Regions from separate parts of the Homo sapiens genome. Here region 2 is linked to region 1. The links come from fine-mapping of genetic effects on gene expression. A gene starts in region 1. The other region holds a variant in brackets. All regions are shown on one strand. Distances are from middle to middle.

Region 1 (5,369 bases):
CTAAAGCCTCCAGTCCGGTGCTGTCTAGCACAGTACCTGGCACAGAGTAGGCATTCAGTAAATGTCAGCCTGCTTCCCCAATAGTCCTGGAAACCCTCAGCCAACCCGCACAGTGCAGAACTGCCTGCTCTCTGGAGGTTTTCTGACCAAAATGGAATTACCATGCAGGCTGAGGGTATCCTCCACCCCCAGAGGGCAGGAGAGCAAAGTGGTCCTCTTTCTGCCTAGGGGGAAAGGAGGACTTTAGACCACAAATCAGGTTATTTCCCTTCCCCCAGTCCAAGACTTCACTAATGATAACAGCAACTTTTTTTTTTTTTTTGAGGTAGGGTCTCACTCTCACCCTGGCTGGAGTGCAGTGGTGCGATCTCAGCTCATTGCAGCCACACTCTCACAGGCTCAGGTGATCTTCCCACCCCAGCCCCCGAAGTATCTGGGACGACAGGCGCATGCCATCACACCCAGCTAATTTTTGTATTTTTTGTAAAGACGGGGTTTCACCATGTTGCCCAGGCTGCTCTTGAACTTCTGGGCTCAAGCAATCCACCAGCCTCAGCCCCCCAAAGTGCTGGGATTATAGGTGTGAGCCACCACACCCGTACAACAGCAACTGTTAACTGACAGCTTTCTTTGTGTCTGGACTGAGCCTACAATCATCTTCACAACAGTGCTGTGACATTGGTGGTAGTGGCCAGGCACAGTGGCCCACGCCTGTAATCCCAGCACTTTGGGAGGCCGAGGAGGGTGGATTACCCAAGGTCAGGAGTTCGAGACCAGACTGACCAACATGGCAAAACCCCGTCTCTGCTAAAAATTAATACAAAAATTAGCGGGGCATGGTGGTGGGTGCCTGTAATCCCAGCTACTCAGGAGGCTGAGGCAGGAGAATTGCTTGAACCCAAGAGGCAGAGGTTGCAGTGAGCCGAGATTGGCCGTTGCACTCCAGCCTGGGCGACAAGAGTGAAACTCCGTCTCAAAAAAAAAAAAAAAAAAAAAAAAGGAAGAAAGAAAAAAAGAGAAATGGTGGTGGTATCCCTTGAATACAGATGTGGAAACTGAGGGTCCACAGCTAGGTCAAAGTACCTAGCTCAGGGCCTCCCAGCTTATAGGTAAGCAAATGATGGCCAGGAGCGGTTCAGGATGGTTCAGGCCTGTAATCCCAGCACTTTGGGAGGCTGAGGTGGTGGATCGCCTGAGGTCAGGAGTTCGAGACCAGCGTGACCAACATGGTGAAACCCCGTCTCTACTAAGTACAAAAAAATTAGCCGGGTGTGGTGGCAGGCGCCTGTAATCCCAGCTGCTTGAGAAGCTGAGGCAGGAGAATTACTTGAACCCGGGAGGCAGCGGTTGCAGTGAGCCAAGATTGCTCCACTGCACTCCAGCCTGGACAACACAGCGAGACTCCGTCTCAAAAAAAAAAAAAAAAAAGTAAGCAAATGATAGAGCCAGAATTTGAACTCTCGGCCTCTGTCTAAGCTGCCATCTTATAAGCTGTGTTTCCTCTAGCTAGACTTGCCCCTCTCTGGTTCTCAGTTTCCCCCTCTGTAGAATGGGAGCCCCCTGCCCGCTGCCTCTACTCCAGTCCCGCAGTTCCATGGCTCTCCACGGGCATGCCTTTCTACCTCCACAATACTGTCGTCCCAGAAGTCAAGTCGCACAGATTTAACTCTGCTGATGTCAGGGAAGTTACGGTGGACGCCGCAGCAGTTGAGACAGATGAAGATCCCCAGCTTGTAAGAGGCCCAGTCGGGATCTGCAGGGGATGAGGCAGGAGAGGAGCTGAGCGGAAAGCGCGGTGAAGAAACCAGGGCTGGGCTCGGGGCACTGGGGCAGGTGGGGCGCCCCTTCTCCCACCTAAGGCGAACTAAGCGGCCAGCCTGGCACCTTCTGGTTAGCCCACCGGCCGCTGCGCGGCGACCGGGGTGAAGATCCTGGAGGCAGTTCAGGGCCCGGGGAGAGAGTCTGAGGCTGCGCGACGTGGAAGTGAAGGGACTCAGAAGGAACCGAGAGGAGGGCGCGGGGGGCGCACCGCGGGGCTCGGCGCGGAGCTGCAGGTGGGGAGGCTGAGTTAGGGGGCCCTCGGCGTCCCCGAGGTGGGGCGCTGGGGAGGCCTTCGGGGGGCGTCTGGGAGCGGGCAGGGGGCACAGGACTGTCGGCGGCCTGGGCCCGACGTTTAGCCCTGGCTGGGATGTCTGAGTCCGAGGGCGTGGGGCGCGCCTGGGTGCGCAGACATCGAGAGCCCGGACTCGGGCGGTCGGGTGCCTGGCCAGGGAAGAGAGCGGGACTGGAAGGGCTCTAGGCTGCCGGCTCTCGTGTCCGGGTCCAAGCACGTGGGAAGATGCGCATCTGGTCCCGCGAGGGGAGCAGAGCCTGGGCTCGTAGGGGCCGGGGCAGGGTGTGGTGGAGACGGCCCTCGGGGCTCGGGTGAGAGGTTCACGGTGTGGGTGGGAGGGGTCGGGGCCCGCAGGTGCCACGTCTGGGTCCAGGGGGCCGAGGGCGGGACCCGGTGGGGCCGAGGGGAGGAGTCGGGTGGGCCTGGGGTCCGGCCGGGGGTCTCGCGCTGCCCGCGCCGCCGCGCCCTTACCTGCCGCCCCGCAGTCGGCGCAGTGCGCGTTGCCTGTGTCCGGCGCCCGCAGCAGCTCCAGCAGCCGCTTCTTGTTGCGCTCGCGATCGCCCATGGCCGGCCCGGCGGGCTCAGCGGGGCTCAGCCCATGGCCCGTGCGCTCCGCCCGGCAGGTGGAGAGGGACCCGGCCGCGGCGCCTCAGCCAGGCCTGGGCAGCCGCCAGCCCCGCCCCGCACCGTCAGGACTGTCCGCCCCTCCCTCGGCAGGTCCAGTCCGGCCCCGAGCTCCGCCGACGCGCGGGGAGGGACAGGAGCACGCAAATTGGAGTTTAACACACTGGCCTGAGATCAAATCGTGGCCTGTCACTTGGTAGCTACGAGACTGTGGACAACCTATTCAACCTCTGTGGGTCTCAGTTTCCGCGTCTATGAAAGAGGAACAAGGGCATATGTCTGCATCTCAGCGCTTCTTGGAAAATTAACCAGAATCTAACTTCTGTTAAAGCGTTCTGTTAATGTAAGATCTTACATCTATTTGGAGACGTATTTATATGCAAATGCCACCTCCTCAGGAAGCCCTCTGTGATACCCTGCCTGGAGTAATCTTTCCAGCCTCTGGGTCTCCAAGAATACTCTTGTAGTATCTGTCTATTTGTTTTGGACCTGAGCACTTTCTATCTACCTTGCATCACGGTTATTTATATACTTGTGTTAATTCCACTCTCTGACCGCAGACACATACACATGTCCACACCAGGGAGTTTGACGTCAGCAGTTTTATGTCTGTATTCCATATTGCTCCTATAAATGATACCTGCACATTTTTAGAAGTCCAACTAATAGTTGCATGATTTTGTTCACCAGAAAAGTGTGGTTTCACCAAGGTGGACACAGCCAGGCACTTTAACCTGTGAAGTTCCATCACCGCGAGGTGAAGGCAGGGTATAGGTGGTCTTAAATGTGGGCATTTCATTTCCTCTTTCCCTCTCTCCCATCTTTGTTACTGCTTGACATCATCTTCGTTACTCCTTGACATCATCTGCAATGACTCATGGGCCTCCTGGTGAAATATATACTGTACATACTTGCCATCTTCTATGTAGGTTAATACCTTAATGCACACAGATGCATTAAGCCATATGCATATGATAGACAGGTGTTAACCTTCAGGATAAAATCAGGTTTCCATCCTGGTGAATTGCAGCTGATGTTCTAGCTGACCTGCCCACACTCCCATTCAACATACATGCGGGCGCAAGCACACACGTGCACACACACGCACAGCAATATGGTGTAATGGAATGAATTCAGGAATCCAGAAATTCAGGCTTTAAATGTTGACTCCTTCATTTCCACATTTCCCAACTGTTTGTCTCTGGGCAAGTTCCTTCACTTCTCTGAGCCTCCAAACCCTCAACTGTTAAATGGAGAGCGTAAGATCCACTAATAGGGTCATTGAAATGGCACAAAGAAACCCTCCAAACATGGTGGCCTCCTTGCTTCCCCTGCCCCTATGGTCAGCTTGTGGAATTGTCGCTTGGAATGCTGTGTGTGATTCCCGTCATCCCTGGGGTGGAGGAGGTCAAGCTGCCAGGACTGAGCAGGAAGGGAGGGTGGAGAGTATTACCAAGAATAGCCAGCCATGAGGGGGTCTTGCCTGTGAGGGGGTGAGGCCTAGCCCAGGAGCAGCCACAGAGGAACCAGTGAGAGAGTCAGCTGGGGTCAGGGGGCATGGGGCTGTTTATTAAACCGGCTGAAAGATGATTCATTTCCGTTGCTTTAGATGAAAAAAGGGACAGAAATAAATCTCCCAGGAGAAAGATGGGAAAGTCAACTTAAGGTATGAAGGCAAAGGAAAGAGGGAGAGAGGGAGAAGAGGAGACAAGCTAAGGACATTTCTCCTCTGCCCAACACTGGGACAAAATTGTGATGCTGGGGGTGCTTCCTCGGCACCCGAGCCTTCACCAGTCTGTGCTCCTTTGCTTCTCTGACACCTTAGGTCTCACTGCCACCTCCCTGTAGGTCCCACAAAAGCCAACCCAGTTCTAAGTAGGCTCTGGTTGAATCTCAGAAACTTTAAAAAAAGCCGGGCGCAGTGGCTCACGCCTGTAATCCCAGCACTTTGGGAGGCCGAGGGGGGCGGATCACGAGGTCAGGAGATCGAGACCATCCTGGATAACACGGTGAAACCCCGTCTCTACTAAAAATACAAAAAAATGGCTGGGTGTGGTGGTGGGCGCCTGTAGTCCCAGTTACTTGGGAGGCTGAGGCAGGAGAATGGCATGAACCCAGGAGGCGGAGTTTGCAGTAAGCCGAGATCGCACCACTGCACTCCAGCCTGGGCGACAGAGTGAGACTCTGTCTCAAAAAAAAAAAAAAAAAATTAAAAAAAAAAAGAAAAAGAAAAAGAAAAAAAATAGCCAATCCAAGAGAACATACAGTATCTCATTCATAGTGAGGAGCCAGAGATTGAGAGATTCCTTTAGTTTCCCCTCTTCCCTTCCTTATTTCTGGAGGTTCCCATCAAACAGCCTTAATGTGGCATTTCAGGCATCCTCAGAGCAAAACAATGTACTCTGGTATTTTGTTTATAATGCTTTCTTTTCTTTTCCCTTCTTTTTTCTTTTCTTTGTTTCTTTCTTTTTTTTTTTTTTTTTTTTTTTTTGGTGGTGGTGGTTGTAGGACAATGCTAATGAACAATTACTGAGTGTTTTTTTTACAAGAGCGTCACACATTTGATCATATTTTAGCTTCATGACACCCTCAGAGGGCAGCATCACATCAGGCCACTTTACAGAAGAGAAAG
Region 2 (5,369 bases), 36 kb before region 1:
TATTGACACATGCAGTGACTTTGATGAATCTCAAAGGTATCATGTGCTGTGAAAGAATCCAGTCTTTAAAAATTACAGGCCTGGCGTGGTGGCTCATGCCTGTAATCCCAGCACTTTGGGAGGCCGAGGCAGGTGGATCACGAGGTTGGGAGATCGAGACCCTCCTGGCTAACATGATGAAACCCTGTCTCTACTAAAAATACAAAAAATTAGCCAGGCATAGTGGCGGGCGCCTGTAGTCCCAGCTACTCGGGAGGCTGAGGCAGGAGAATGGCGTGAACCCGGGAGGCGGAGCTTGCAGCGAGCCGAGATTGCGCCACTGCACTCCAGCCTGGGCGACAGAGCAAGACTCTGTCTCAAAAAAAAAAAAATAAAATAAAATAAATAAAATAAAATAAAATAAAATAAAATAAAAATTACATATTAAATGATTCCATTTATATGGCATTTTTGAAAGTACAATCTATAATGATGAACGGATCAATGGTTGCCACGGGGCAGGGGAAGGGTGTGGCTACAAGGGAGTTTTGGGGTGTGACATAACTGTTCTTTGCTGAAGCAGAGTCTCACTCTGTCACCCAGGCTGGAGTGCAGTGGTGAGACCATAGCTCACTGCAGTCTTGAAATCTCAGGCTTAAGTGGGAGTTCAGCCTTGAGTAGCTGGGACTACAGGCACATGCCACCATGCCTGGCTTTTTTTTTTTTCTTTTTCTTTTTCTTTTTTTGAGACGGAGTCTCACTCTGTCGCCAGGCTGGAGTGCAGTGGCGCAATCTTGGTTCACTGCAACCTCCGCCTGCCGGGTTCAAGCGATTCTCCTGCCTCAGCTTCCTGAGTAGCTGGGACTACAGGCACGTGCCACCACAGTCAGCTAATTTTTGTATTTTTAGTAGAGACGGGGTTTCACCATGTTGGCCAGGATGGTCTTGATCTCCTGACCTCATGATCTGCCTGCCTCGGCCTCCCAAAGTGCTAGGATTATAGGCGTGAGCCACCGTGCCCGGCCAATAAATTTCTTTCTATAGCCATATATATATATATGTATATCATTGGTTCTGTTTCTCTGGAGAACGCTAATACAAGTGAAGTGTGATTCAAATTTTCTTTTCTTTTTCTTTTTTTTTTTTTTGGAGACGGAGTCTCACTCTGTCACCCAGGCTGGAGTGCATAACCCCCCAGGCCCAAGCAAGCCTCCCACCTCTGCCTCCTGAGTAGCTGGGACTACAGGCATGCATTACAGTGCCCATGCCTAGCTATTTTCTTTTTTTAGACGGAGTTTCCCTCTTGTCGCCCAGGCTGCAGTGCAATGGCTGTTCACAGGCATGATCCCTCTACTGACCAGCACGGAAGTGCTTCATTTCTGATCTGGGCCAGTTCACCCCTCCTTAGGCAAACTGGTGATTCCTCACTCCTGGGAGGTCACCATGTTGATGCCAAATTTAGTGTGGACACCCAATTAGCATTGTGCACTAAAGCCCAGAACTCCTGGGCTCAAATGATCTTCCCACCTCACCCTCCCCAGTAGCTAGGACTACAGGCACGTGCACACCTGATATCTCTGAGCCTTTACACATGCTTCTTTCTCTGCCTCCTCCCACCCCAACCCAACTATCTTCTACTCTTTCTTCAGGATTCAGCATAGGTATCATCTCTTTTAGAGAACTTTATCTGTCAGGACTGATTCAAGTAATAGAAACTTCCTTGCACTAACAAGCCAAAAAGGGAAAAAGGGATTTAATATAAGAGTATAGAAGCATACTCTTCCTTGAGGAAGGAATCATCCAAAACCAAGCACTCCATTTCATTAGGACTTTATCTCTTGTGTCTGTTCTTTCCCACCCTTAGAATCCCAGTTGGCCTCTTCAAGTAGCTTTGTTACTGCCTATCTATACTTCTCGTTCTTCTCCTCTAGACCATAAGTTCCTTGAAGGCAAGACTGTACCTTTATTAATTTCCTCATCCCCAGAACTTAGCAGAGTACACCCAACAGAGTTCACAGGTGGTCAAAGAGGCAGACAAGTAAACTGGCCCTTAATGCACAACCCAGCAAGTGTCCTTGAAAATGCACATTTTCAAGGTGCTTCCAGAGCCAGAGGAGATAGAGAGGACTCACCTCC[C/T]TATCTGGGCAGTCGAGAAGCTTCAGGAAGGACACAGGCTTACGCATTGCTTATCCTTTGATTGGGGGATCCAAAGGAAAGTCCCATACAATGCATAGATTTTTTTTTTTTTTGAGATAGGGTCTCACTCTGTCACCCAGGCTAAGTAAAGTGGTGCAATGAGGGGTCACTGTAGCCATGACCTCCCTGGCTCAAGTGATCCTCTCACATCAGTGTCCGGAGTAGCTGGGACTACAGGCATTCATTACCATGTCCAGCTAATTTTTTTTTCTTTGTAGAGATGGGGTCTCACTATGTTGCCCAGGCTCTTCTCGAACTCCTGGTCTCAATCCTCCTGCCTCAGCTTCCCAAAGGGCTGGGATTATGGGCATGAGCCATCACACCCAGCCACGGAGAATCAGAGAGTCTCTTAAGAGACCTCCCAGCTCCTTGGGTCTCCATTGAAGCAAAGAGAGAACATCCAGTGTATTTCTGCGTGGTGCTTGAAGACAGAGGAAAGGAACAACGAGTCACAGAGCAGGGGACTTGGTGCTCTGTTTCTCTAACATTTCAGCCATCTGAGATTTCATTCAGTTCCTCTTTTTCTTTCTGATACGGAGTCTCGCTCTGTCACCCAGGCTGGAATGCAATGGCGCAATCTCACTGCGCCCGGCCATTGACTACTTTATCTTTCACTCTTCATTTTTGAAGAGTCTGGGTCAGATGTTTAGCAGAATGCCCCTAATGTGGATTTGTCTGATTATTTCCTCATGGTTAGATTCAGATTAAACTTTTTTTTTTTTTTTACAAGATGCCACTTGCATGATGCTGTGGGTGCCTTTTCATTGCAATGCCTCCATTTCAGATGTGAGAAAGTTCTGGGCCTGTAGGGCATTTCAAGCCTAGGTGTGTATGGGGGAGGAGGGGATAGATGTTCATCTATGCACCAGATCCTCAGATCCCCGAGGTGGGTTGCGGGGAAGGCCCAGGGAGCTGATGGATAAAGCCACAGCTTCAGTCCTGGCAGAGTTCACTGCCAGGAATGGCTGCTGACTGCGGGGCACTGATGGTGGGCAGCCAGGGCCGAGGTGCAAACTTCTTCCCACAAGGAGTTCCAGGTGTTCAGTGGCAGCCAGTTCCTCAGTTAATGGGTCACCTGCTGCTGCGGCCACTCTCTGTTGATGCAGCTGCAAGGGAAATGAAGAGGGCTGAGGGAGGTGGCCATGCCAATGCTGTCCTGTGGAGGAGAGGGACAGCAAAGGGACAGGCGTACAAAGACAGAGGGAGCCATGGCCGGGCACAGTGGCTCATGCCTGTAATCCCAGCACTTTGGGAGGCCGAGGCAGGTGGATCACTTGAGCTCAGGAGTTCGAGACCAGCCTGAGCAACATGGTGAAACTCTGTCTCTACCAAAAATACAAAACAAATTAGCTAGATGTGGTGTCACGAGCCTGTAGTCCCAGCTACTTGGGAGGCTGAGGTGAGAGGATTGCCTGAGCCCAGGAAGAAGAGGTTGCAGTGAGCTGAGATCGCACCACTGCACTCCAGCCTGGGTGACAGTGCAAGACCCCACCTCAAAAAAAGAAAATTAAAAAAAAAAACACAAAGACAGAGGGAGCCAGAATAAAAAACAGAATGAAAGAGTGAGAGCCAGGGCGTCAGAGGGAATGCACACACCAGCAAAGGAGAGAAAAGTGGAGGGACAGAGACAGAGAGAAACCAAGAGATTCATAAATGGCAGCCCACAGAGAAAAGAAAGCACCAGCTGATATGCCTCACTCACAATTTGCAAGTCCCTTTCTGAGGTTCTCTGGCTTTGGCCTTTATGGGACAGTCAAGAGAGTCTGTGTTTATATCAGTCAGACTCAAAGGGCACAAGTGTTTCCCCCAAGGGGCTGTGCGGGGGTCACCTGCTCAGTCTGTACTTTTCCAAACACAGAAATTCTCCTTTGTGCCCCAGAAGCCAGGTCCTGGGCCAGCAGTTTCCTGCCGGAGCTCGGCATGTCTCCCCTTTTTTCACAGGGCTGTCAGCATTGAGGAAGCCCTACTGGTAAAGAGGAGGAACAGGAGAGAGGCAGACAGAAGGGAGGACTCAAAGAAAAGAAGCCACTAGAAATAGCCTTCCCTCTGGAGTGGGGAGGAATCCAAAAATCCCAGGAGCTGCCCAGCGGGTGTGACCTTAGCTAATAATAACAGGCCAGCGTTTTCTCACGAGAAAAAGGATCAGCATAGAGCACGGTGGAGGGAAAGAGAAGCTGCTTAGCCCCCACACCGCAAGGGGTACAGACAGCACCCAGGGGTTCTGCCAGGGCCAAACTCCTCTAAAAGCTCCTGGGGAAGGGCTCGGTTAGGGGAACCCAGAGTGGACAGAGGAGACCTTTTGGCAATAATGGCATGTCTGTGCTTTTCTTTTGCAGGAAGAGAAGACAATGAAAAGAGCATAGTCAGGAATCAGGAATCTTTTGTGGTATCAAAGCTGAACCTAAGTGAAGAAGCAATTTTCTGTCCTCTGCCCTTGTCCAAAAGAACACCCCTCAGTTCCTGCTTCTTACTAAGCCGGTTGAGGGGCGTCAAGGGGCTGGACAGGACACCCCGCAAACTTTCCAGCCATTCCTGCTGTTCCTTCTCACTGGGGCAAGTGAGGACAAATCTCCGCTCTGGGGTGACAATGGTGAGTCCGGCTTTCCAGCGATTTCCTCGGATGCCCTTGGGCAGGTCTTCGTAGGCTTCATATCCCTGCTCCTTGTTCCCAAGAAAAACCTGGCCCTGCTCGAAGGCATCCTGAAAATGGAGAGTACAGGGTCATCAGAGGGTGCCCCCAGGGCAGAGGGGCCCTGCAGCCCTGACAGCCTCCAAGCTTTATTTTGGGAAAGGGGTATGAGGTCCCTGCTGGGATTTCTGCTAAGTGGGACCCAGAATTTGAAAGATCAAAACCCTAAAATAAATCATACACATCATCTATTGAAAAGATACCGAGGGTGGGCCTGGTAGTTCATGCCTGTAATCCTAGCACTTTGGGAAGCCAAGGCAGAGGATTGCCTGAGGCCAGGAATATGAGACCAACCGGGACAACATAGTGAGACCCCTTCTCTACAAAAAAAAATTATTAATTATTATTATGAATTGTTTTTGGAGACAGGGCCTCACTCTGTCACCCAGGCTGGAAGTGCAGTGGCACAATCATGGCTCATCCCAGCCTCAACCTCCCAGGCTCAGGCAATCCTCCCACCTCAGCCTCCCAAGCAGCTAGGACTACAGGCATGCACCACCACACC

Evidence for each region. PIP is the estimated chance that this variant, and not a neighbour inherited with it, causes the effect.
Region 2: its variant is fine-mapped to the expression of ADAP2 in whole blood (TOPMed, PIP 0.96).

Annotation. Positions count from the first base shown.
Region 1 is chr17:30,919,324-30,924,692 of GRCh38, reverse strand. It overlaps ADAP2 (ArfGAP with dual PH domains 2), which reads right to left and starts at 2,748. Exons shown (of 11, transcript NM_018404.3): 1 at 2,585-2,748; 2 at 1,623-1,753. The coding sequence starts at 2,678. RefSeq lists silencers at 2,058-2,217, 2,378-2,427, 2,568-3,007.
Region 2 is chr17:30,955,747-30,961,115 of GRCh38, reverse strand. ADAP2 (ArfGAP with dual PH domains 2) reads right to left here. Exons shown (of 11, transcript NM_018404.3): 10 at 4,647-4,875; 11 at 1,794-3,281. The coding sequence ends at 3,247. It also overlaps a transcript of RNF135 not described here and the pseudogene RN7SL138P. Among named protein-coding and RNA genes, the nearest start is that of RNF135, 13 kb to the left of the region's middle. RefSeq lists a silencer at 594-643 and enhancers at 2,770-3,269, 3,853-3,902. The variant C/T (reference allele first, on the strand shown) is at 2,116.